2 linked regions of the Homo sapiens genome follow. The protein of the gene in region 1 interacts with the protein of each later gene in a pairwise test. Each region holds a gene or a part of one and is shown on either strand. Other genes may lie near its edges. The genes, in order: CYP4F12 and SOD2.

Region 1 (3,815 bases):
GATAGCCCACCACCACGCCCAGCTAATTTCTGTATTTTCAGTAGAGAGGGGGTTCACCATGTTGTCCAGGCTGGTCTCAAATTCCTGACCTCAGGTGATGTGCCCTCTTTGGCCTCAGAAAATGTTGGGATTACAGGCATGAGCCACTGTGCCCAGCTGCTTCTTCTTTCTTACAGGGTGAAAGAGAGAGGGAGAGAGAGAGAGACAGAGAGACAGAGAGAGAGAGAGAGAAAGAGAGAGAGAGTTGGTTATGCTGGGGGCTGGAGCAGGGCTGAACTGGAAGAGGATGAAGTCTGAGTTGTGTGGACAGTTTTGGTAAGGAAAATGATCAGTACTGCATACTGGATGGGAGACAGAGGAGAGAAGCATGGTGTCCAAGCTATACTCTAGGTGCCTAGGTGCATGGAGACAGCTCTCTCAGAGATAGGATGCAGGGAGAGAAGACAGTCTAGAGAGTCAGTCTCATGACTGATACCCACCATGTATCTCTAGGACCATCTATTTCTAGATACTCAGTTTCCTGATGGGAGGTAGCTCCTGGCTGCTGGTGGGAGGTGTTCCTGGGGCTTTGCATACGTTACATTGTTGCCTCCCTTTCTGCCCTTGCTCTGCAGGAGGCCCAGTGAATATATTGCCACCATCTTGGAGCTCAGTGCCCTTGTAGAGAAAAGAAGCCAGCATATCCTCCAGCACATGGACTTTCTGTATTACCTCTCCCATGACGGGCGGCGCTTCCACAGGGCCTGCCGCCTGGTGCATGACTTCACAGACGCTGTCATCCGGGAGCGGCGTCGCACCCTCCCCACTCAGGGTATTGATGATTTTTTCAAAGACAAAGCCAAGTCCAAGACTTTGGATTTCATTGATGTGCTTCTGCTGAGCAAGGTAGGTTTCTCTATGATCTGAATTTAGGTGAGAGAATAGAGCTTCATGTCAAATGTCAGGTGAAATAAATTGGTTTTGATCCAAAGGGCACTGGGAGCCATGGAAGATGCTTGAGAAAGGGAAGGTCACAGATAGGTTTTAGAGATGACTTTATTGCATGCAGCCCACAGGGCACTGCTAATTCTGAAACTGTGAGGAGCATGATATTTTATTCAACTTATAAGTTAGTGTGTTAGTCTTTCACATTTTTATGTGTATCTATATGTCTATGTCTTTGTCTATGTCTGTATCTATGATAAAAGATGCACCAAACCCCTGGATCACAGCAGCCCATTAATTATTTACAGCAGTAACAGCAGGTGGAGTAGGATGGTAGTGCTGGCTCCCCATTCCTAGGGCAACACAATGTTTTTACCTGTAAATGCACAAGAATTTGCACCAAGGAGAGGGGCCCCCACATTATGAGTATTATAGCTTATATAGGACAGCTAGCTCATATGCTCCTTCTTTATTACAGGGTGAAAGTTAGAGACAGAGAAAGAGAGAGAGAGAGAATGCTTTGTTCTGGCGTATAAACTACCCCTCTCCTGTGAGATGGCAATTTCTAGAGTTTTATAACCCAAATATCTTCTGGAAAGATAAGATTCTCTGGGTTTACCACTCTAGAATGTCAGCAAATATTTTTGGAGCAATACATAATTTCTAACCTCCAAGGCAAATTGCCATTCAAATATCCTGTACCCCAGGTTGCCAGTATCTTTTTCTCTGAAAGTCTGTATTATGCAGAAAAATGAAAATATTCGAGAACCATTGATTCCTGTCACCAGGGTCCAAAGAGGAGGCAAAGGATCTGGGGGAAGCCCTTGGAGTTGGGGCTTTGGTGATGGTGAACAAGAGAGATCTAGACGTGCAGAGTGCATTTGAGTTTCTGGAAGATCAGAGCTTCAGAGATTATCTCAGGTTAGACTCCGGAGTCTCAGAGATAGTATAATTTGTGTGTGTGTGTGTGTGTGTGTGTGTGTGTGTGTGTGTGTGTCTTGCTTTCTCTTCAGGATGAAGATGGGAAGGCATTGTCAGATGAGGATATAAGAGCAGAGGCTGACACCTTCATGTTTGGAGGTGAGGGTCCCAGTGTGGGACTACAGTGGAGACAGAGGTCCCTCCATCTCAGGATCCGGGTGGGTGGACCCTGGATCACTCCATTCTGCCCATCTTCCCCCTCCCTCCATCCTCCTGAGGGCCTCAATATCTGGGCGCTGTCCACCCTCCGGTGCTGAAGCCAAGCTTACCTGGCTGCTCCTCAGGCCATGACACCACGGCCAGTGGCCTCTCCTGGGTCCTGTACAACCTTGCGAGGCACCCAGAATACCAGGAGCGCTGCCGACAGGAGGTGCAAGAGCTTCTGAAGGACCGCGATCCTAAAGAGATTGAATGGTGAGTGCAAGTTCTTCTGGCCTGTTCCTGAGCCCATCATTGGTTCTGCTCCCCAAGTGAGGAGGGGTGGAGGAGTTGTTTTGTGGATTCTTCCACTATTGCTTAGTGGGTATAAAAGCAGAGGACCACAGGCAGGGCTTGATACCAAGCCTGGCTGTCAGGGGAAAAGTTGCAGGCCTTTAGGACCGAAAGACCCGGGCTGCTAAGAGAATTGGTGACAATGTGTGAGGACAGATAATGCTACTTTGCACATGTTCAGCAAATGAACTTCCCCTCCACTCTGTTTCTGTTCTCCCAGAAATATCAGTTTTTTCGAAAATCCTCACTTCTTGAATGTTTGCTCAGGTGGGGAGGGAGAAGTTGTTTTTGTCAATTCTTCCATTATTGCTTAGTAGTACTAGGAGCAGAGCACAGAGGCAGAACTTGGTATCCAACCTGGCTAGCAGGGGAAAGTTTTCAGACTTTTGGGACAGAGAGTCCTAGCCCGCTGAGAGAACTAAGGACAATATATGAAGGCAGACGATGACATCTAGACATGTTCAGTCAATGAATTTTCCCTTCACTCCTTTCTTGTTTACTCTGAATTATCATATTTTTTTCAAACATCTTTACTTCCTGAATGTTTACTCTTCTGTTCCCTAATTCCTACCCTCCGGTCCAGTCCAGGGAGTCCTAAGGGAGACCTGGGGGTAAAAGTCATCTATCTTTTGTCTAGAACACCTGCATCGTTCATCCATTCAGTCTTCATTCAGCAAACTCTTCCACATGCCTTTCCATTGCCAGTTCTGTTCCCACACCTTTCTGTGCTCTGGAGACCTGGAAAGAACCCTGCCTATGGATGTGTTTTCCAGGTACTCCCAGCCTAGTAGGAACAGTCCCCCACAAGACATTCCCAGTCCACATAGGCAAGGATGGAGTTGAGAGCAAGAGAAGCATGGCTGGGAGTACAGAAAGTGTGATAGAAAGTGTTTCAAGCCAGATCTGGTGGCTGTCGCTTGTGATACCAAGTACCGAGGAGGCTGAAGTGGGATAATCACTTGAGGTCAGGTTTAAGATCAACCTGGGCAATATAGAAAGAACCCATTTCTAAAAAAGTAAAAAACCAAAATAATAAAGTGCCTCAACTGAAACCCTGAATGGTGATCAGTAGGTGTTTGGATGCAGTAGTGCCCTAGGTCAAAAAGAAAGTCTGGGCAAAAATGCAAAAAGAGGGAGCAGGAGAGAGGGAGAAGAGGGAAAGAGAGGTTTGTGTGTCAGGGAAGGAGATGGTTATAAAGGGAGGGAGAAGTAAGAGGGAGGAAAAGTGAGGGAGAGCAAGATAAAGAGAGGAGGGAAGACAGAAGGAGACAGAGAGAGAATGAGAGAGAAAGGAACTGAGTTGTGATGAGATAATAACTATGGTAGTGAAAGCAGAGTCTGGCTGTGGAAAATATGGGAAAATGGTAATGGCTTCCATTTTAACCCAAAGGCAATGGGAAGCCATAACAAGTGGTTGA
Region 2 (3,815 bases), on another chromosome or scaffold:
CATCCTAGTGACAGGATCAAATTCACACATAACAATATTAACCTTAAATGTAAATGGGCTAAATGCTCCAATTAAAAGACACAGACTGGCACACTGGATAAAGAGTCAAGACCCATCAGGGTGCTGTATTCAGGAAACCCATCTCACGTACAGAGACACACACACATAGGCTCAAAATAAAAGGATGGAGGAAGATCTACCAAGCAAACGGAAAACAAAAAAAAAGGCCGGGGTTGCAATCCTAGTCTCTGATAAAACAGACTTTAAACCAACAAAGATCAAAAGAGACAAAGAAGGCCATTACATGATAGTAAAGGGATCAATTCAACAAGAAGAGCTAACTATCTTAAATATATATGCACCCAATACAGGAGCACCCAGATTCATAAACCAAGTCCTTAGAGACCTACAAAGAGATTTAGACTCCCACACAATAACAATGGGAGACTCTAACACCCCACTGTCAATATTAGACAGATCAACGAGACAGAAAGTTAACAAGGATATCCAGGAATTGAATTCAGCTCTGCACCAAGCAGACCTAATAGACATCTACAGAACTCTCCACCCCAAATCAACAGAATATACATTCTTCTCAGCACCACATCGCACCTATTCCAAAATTGACCACATAGTTGGAAGTAAAGCACTCCTCAGCAAATGTAAAAGAACAGAAATTATAACATACTGTCTCAGACCACAGTGCAATCAAACTAGAACTCAGGATTAAGAAACTCACTCAAAACCACTCAGCTACATGGAAACTGAACAACCTGCTCCTGAATGACTACTGGGTACATAACAAAATGAAGGCAGAAATAAAGATGTTCTTTGAAACCAACGAGAACAAAGACACAACATACCAGAATCTCTGGGACACATTTAAAGCAGTGTGTAGAGGGAAATTTACAGCACTAAGTGCCCACAAGAGAAAGCAGGAAAGATCTAAAATTGACACTCTAACATCACAATTAAAAATATTAGAGAAGCAAGAGCAAACACATTCAACAGCTAGCAGAAGACAAGAAATAACTAAGATCAGAGCAGAACTGAAGGAGACAGAGACACAAAAAAACCTTCAAAAAATGAATGAATCCAGGAGCTGGTTTTTTGAAAAGATAAACACAATTGATAGACCGCTAGCAAGACTAATAAACAAGAAAAGAGAGAAGAATCAAATAAATGCAATAAAAAATGATAAAGTGGATATCACCACCAATCCCACAGAAATACAGAGTACACAGAGAATACTATAAACACCTCTATGCAAATAAACTAGAAAATCTAGAAGAAATAGATAAATTCCTGGACACATACACCCTCTCAAAACTAAACCAGGAAGAAGTTTAATCCCTGAATAGACCAATAACAGGCTCTGAAATTGAGGCAATAATTAATAGCCTACCAACCAAAAAAAGTCCAGGACAAGATGGATTCACAGCCGAATTCTACCAGAGGTACAAGGAAGAGCTGGTACCATTCCTTCTGAAACTATTCCAATCAATAGAAAAAGAGGGAATCCTCCCTAACTCATTTTATGAAGCCAGCATCATCCTGATACCAAAGCCTGGCAGAGACATAACAAAAAAAGAGAACTTTAGACCAATATCCCTGATGAAAATCAATGCAAAAATCCTCAATAAAATACTGGCAAACTGAATCCAGCAGCATATCAAAAAGCTTATCCACCATGATCAAGTGGGCTTCATCCCTGGGATGCAAGGCTGGTTCAACATACACAAATCAATAAAAGTAATCCAGCATATAAACAGAACCAAAGACAAAAACCACATGATTATCTCAACAGATGCAGAAAAGGCCTTGGACAAAATTCAACAGCCCTTCATGCTAAAAACTCTCAATGAATTAGGTATTGATGGGACATATCTCAAAATAATAAGAGCTATCTATGACAAACCCACAGCCAATATCAGACTGAATGGGCAAAAACTGGAAGCATTCCCTTTGAAAACTGGCACAAGACAGGGATGCCCTCTCTCACCACTCCTATTCAACATAGTGTTGGAAGTTCTGGCCAGGGCCATCAGGCAGGAGAAAGAAATAAAGGGTATTCAATAAGGAAAAGAGGAAGTCAAATTGTCCCTGTTTGCAGATGACATGATTTTATATTTAGAAAACCCCATCATCTCAGCCCAAAATCTCCTTAATTTGATAAGCAACTTCAGCAAAATCTCAGGATACAAAATCAATGTGCAAAAATCACAAGCATTCTTATACACCAACAACAGACAAACAGAGAGCCAAATCATGAGTGAACTCCCATTCACAACTGCCTCAAAGAGAATAAAATACCTAGGAATCCAACTTACAAGGGATGTGAAGGACCTCTTCAAGGAGAACTACAAACCACTGCTCAAGGAAATAAAAGAGGACACAAACAAATGGAAGAACATTCCATGCTCATGGATAGGAAGAATCAATATCGTGAAAATGGCTATACTGCCCAAGGTAATTTATAGATTCAATGCCATCCCCATCAAGCTACCCATGACTTTCTTCATAGAATTGGAAAAAACTACTTTAAAGTTCATGTGGAACCAAAAAAGAGCCTGCACTGCCAAAACGATCCTAAGCCAAAAGAACAAAGCTGGAGGCATCACGCTACCTGATTTCAAACTATACTACAAGGCTGCAGTAACCAAAACAGCATGGTACTAGTACCAAAACAGAGATATAGACCAATGGAACAGAACAGAGCCCTCAGAAATAATACCACACATCTACAACTATCTGATCTTTGAGAAACCTGACAAAAACAAGAAATGGGGAAAGGATTCCCTATTTAATAAATGGTGCTGGGAAAACTGGCTAGCCACATGTAGAAAGCTGAAACTGGATCCCTTCCTTACACCTTATACAAAAATTAATTCAAGATGGATTAAAGACTTAAATGTTAGACCTAAAACCATAAAAACCCTAGAAGAAAACCTATGCAGTACCATTCAGGACACAGGCATGGGCAAGGACTTCATGTCTAAAACACCAAAAGCAATGGCAACAGAAGCCAAAATTGACAAATGGGATCTCATTAAACTCAAGAGCTTCTGCACAGCAAAAGAAACTACCATCAGAGTGAACAGGCAACCTACAAAATGGGAGAAAATTTTTGCAATCTACTCATCTGACAAAGGGCTAATATCCAGAATCTACAAGGAACTCAAACAAACTTACAAGAAAAAAACAAACCCCATCAAAAAGTAGGTGAAGGATATGAAGAGACACTTCTCAAAAGAAGACATCCATGCATCCAACAGACACATGAAAAAAATGCTCATCATCATGGGCCATCAGAGAAATGCAAATCAAAACCACAATGAGATACCATCTCACACCAGTTAGAATGTCAATCATTAAAAAGTCAGGAAACAACAGGTGCTGGAGAGGATGTGGAGAAATAGGAACACTTTTACACTGGTGGTGGGACTGTAAACTAGTTCAACCATTGTGGAAGACAGTGTGGCGATTCCTCAGGGATCTAGAACTAGAAATACCATTTGACCCAGCCATCCCATTACTGGGTATATACCCAAAGGATTATAAATCATGCTGCTATAAAGACACATGCACACGTATATTTATTGTGGCACTGTTCACAATAGCAAAGACTTGGAACCAACCCAAATGTCCATCAATGATAGATTGGTTTAAGAAGATGTGGCACATATACACCATGGAATACTATGCAGCCATAAAAAAGGAAGAGTTCATGTCCTTTATAGGGACATGGATGAAGCTGGAAACCATCCTTCTCAGCAAACTATTCCAAGGACAAAAAAACAAACACCGCATGTTCT

Evidence for each region.
Region 2: the proteins of CYP4F12 (region 1) and SOD2 interact in a two-hybrid assay, tested with the Homo sapiens proteins (one large-scale study listed by BioGRID and IntAct).

Annotation. Positions count from the first base shown.
Region 1 is NC_000019.10:15,682,879-15,686,693, forward strand, and holds part of CYP4F12 (cytochrome P450 4F12), read left to right. Parts: intron 1-614; coding exon 615-885; intron 886-1,937; coding exon 1,938-2,004; intron 2,005-2,189; coding exon 2,190-2,319; intron 2,320-3,815. UniProt on the Homo sapiens protein: A cytochrome P450 monooxygenase involved in the metabolism of endogenous polyunsaturated fatty acids (PUFAs).
Region 2 is NC_000006.12:159,672,708-159,676,522, forward strand, and holds part of SOD2 (superoxide dismutase [Mn], mitochondrial isoform A precursor), read right to left. Parts: 3' UTR 1-3,815. UniProt on the Homo sapiens protein: Destroys superoxide anion radicals which are normally produced within the cells and which are toxic to biological systems.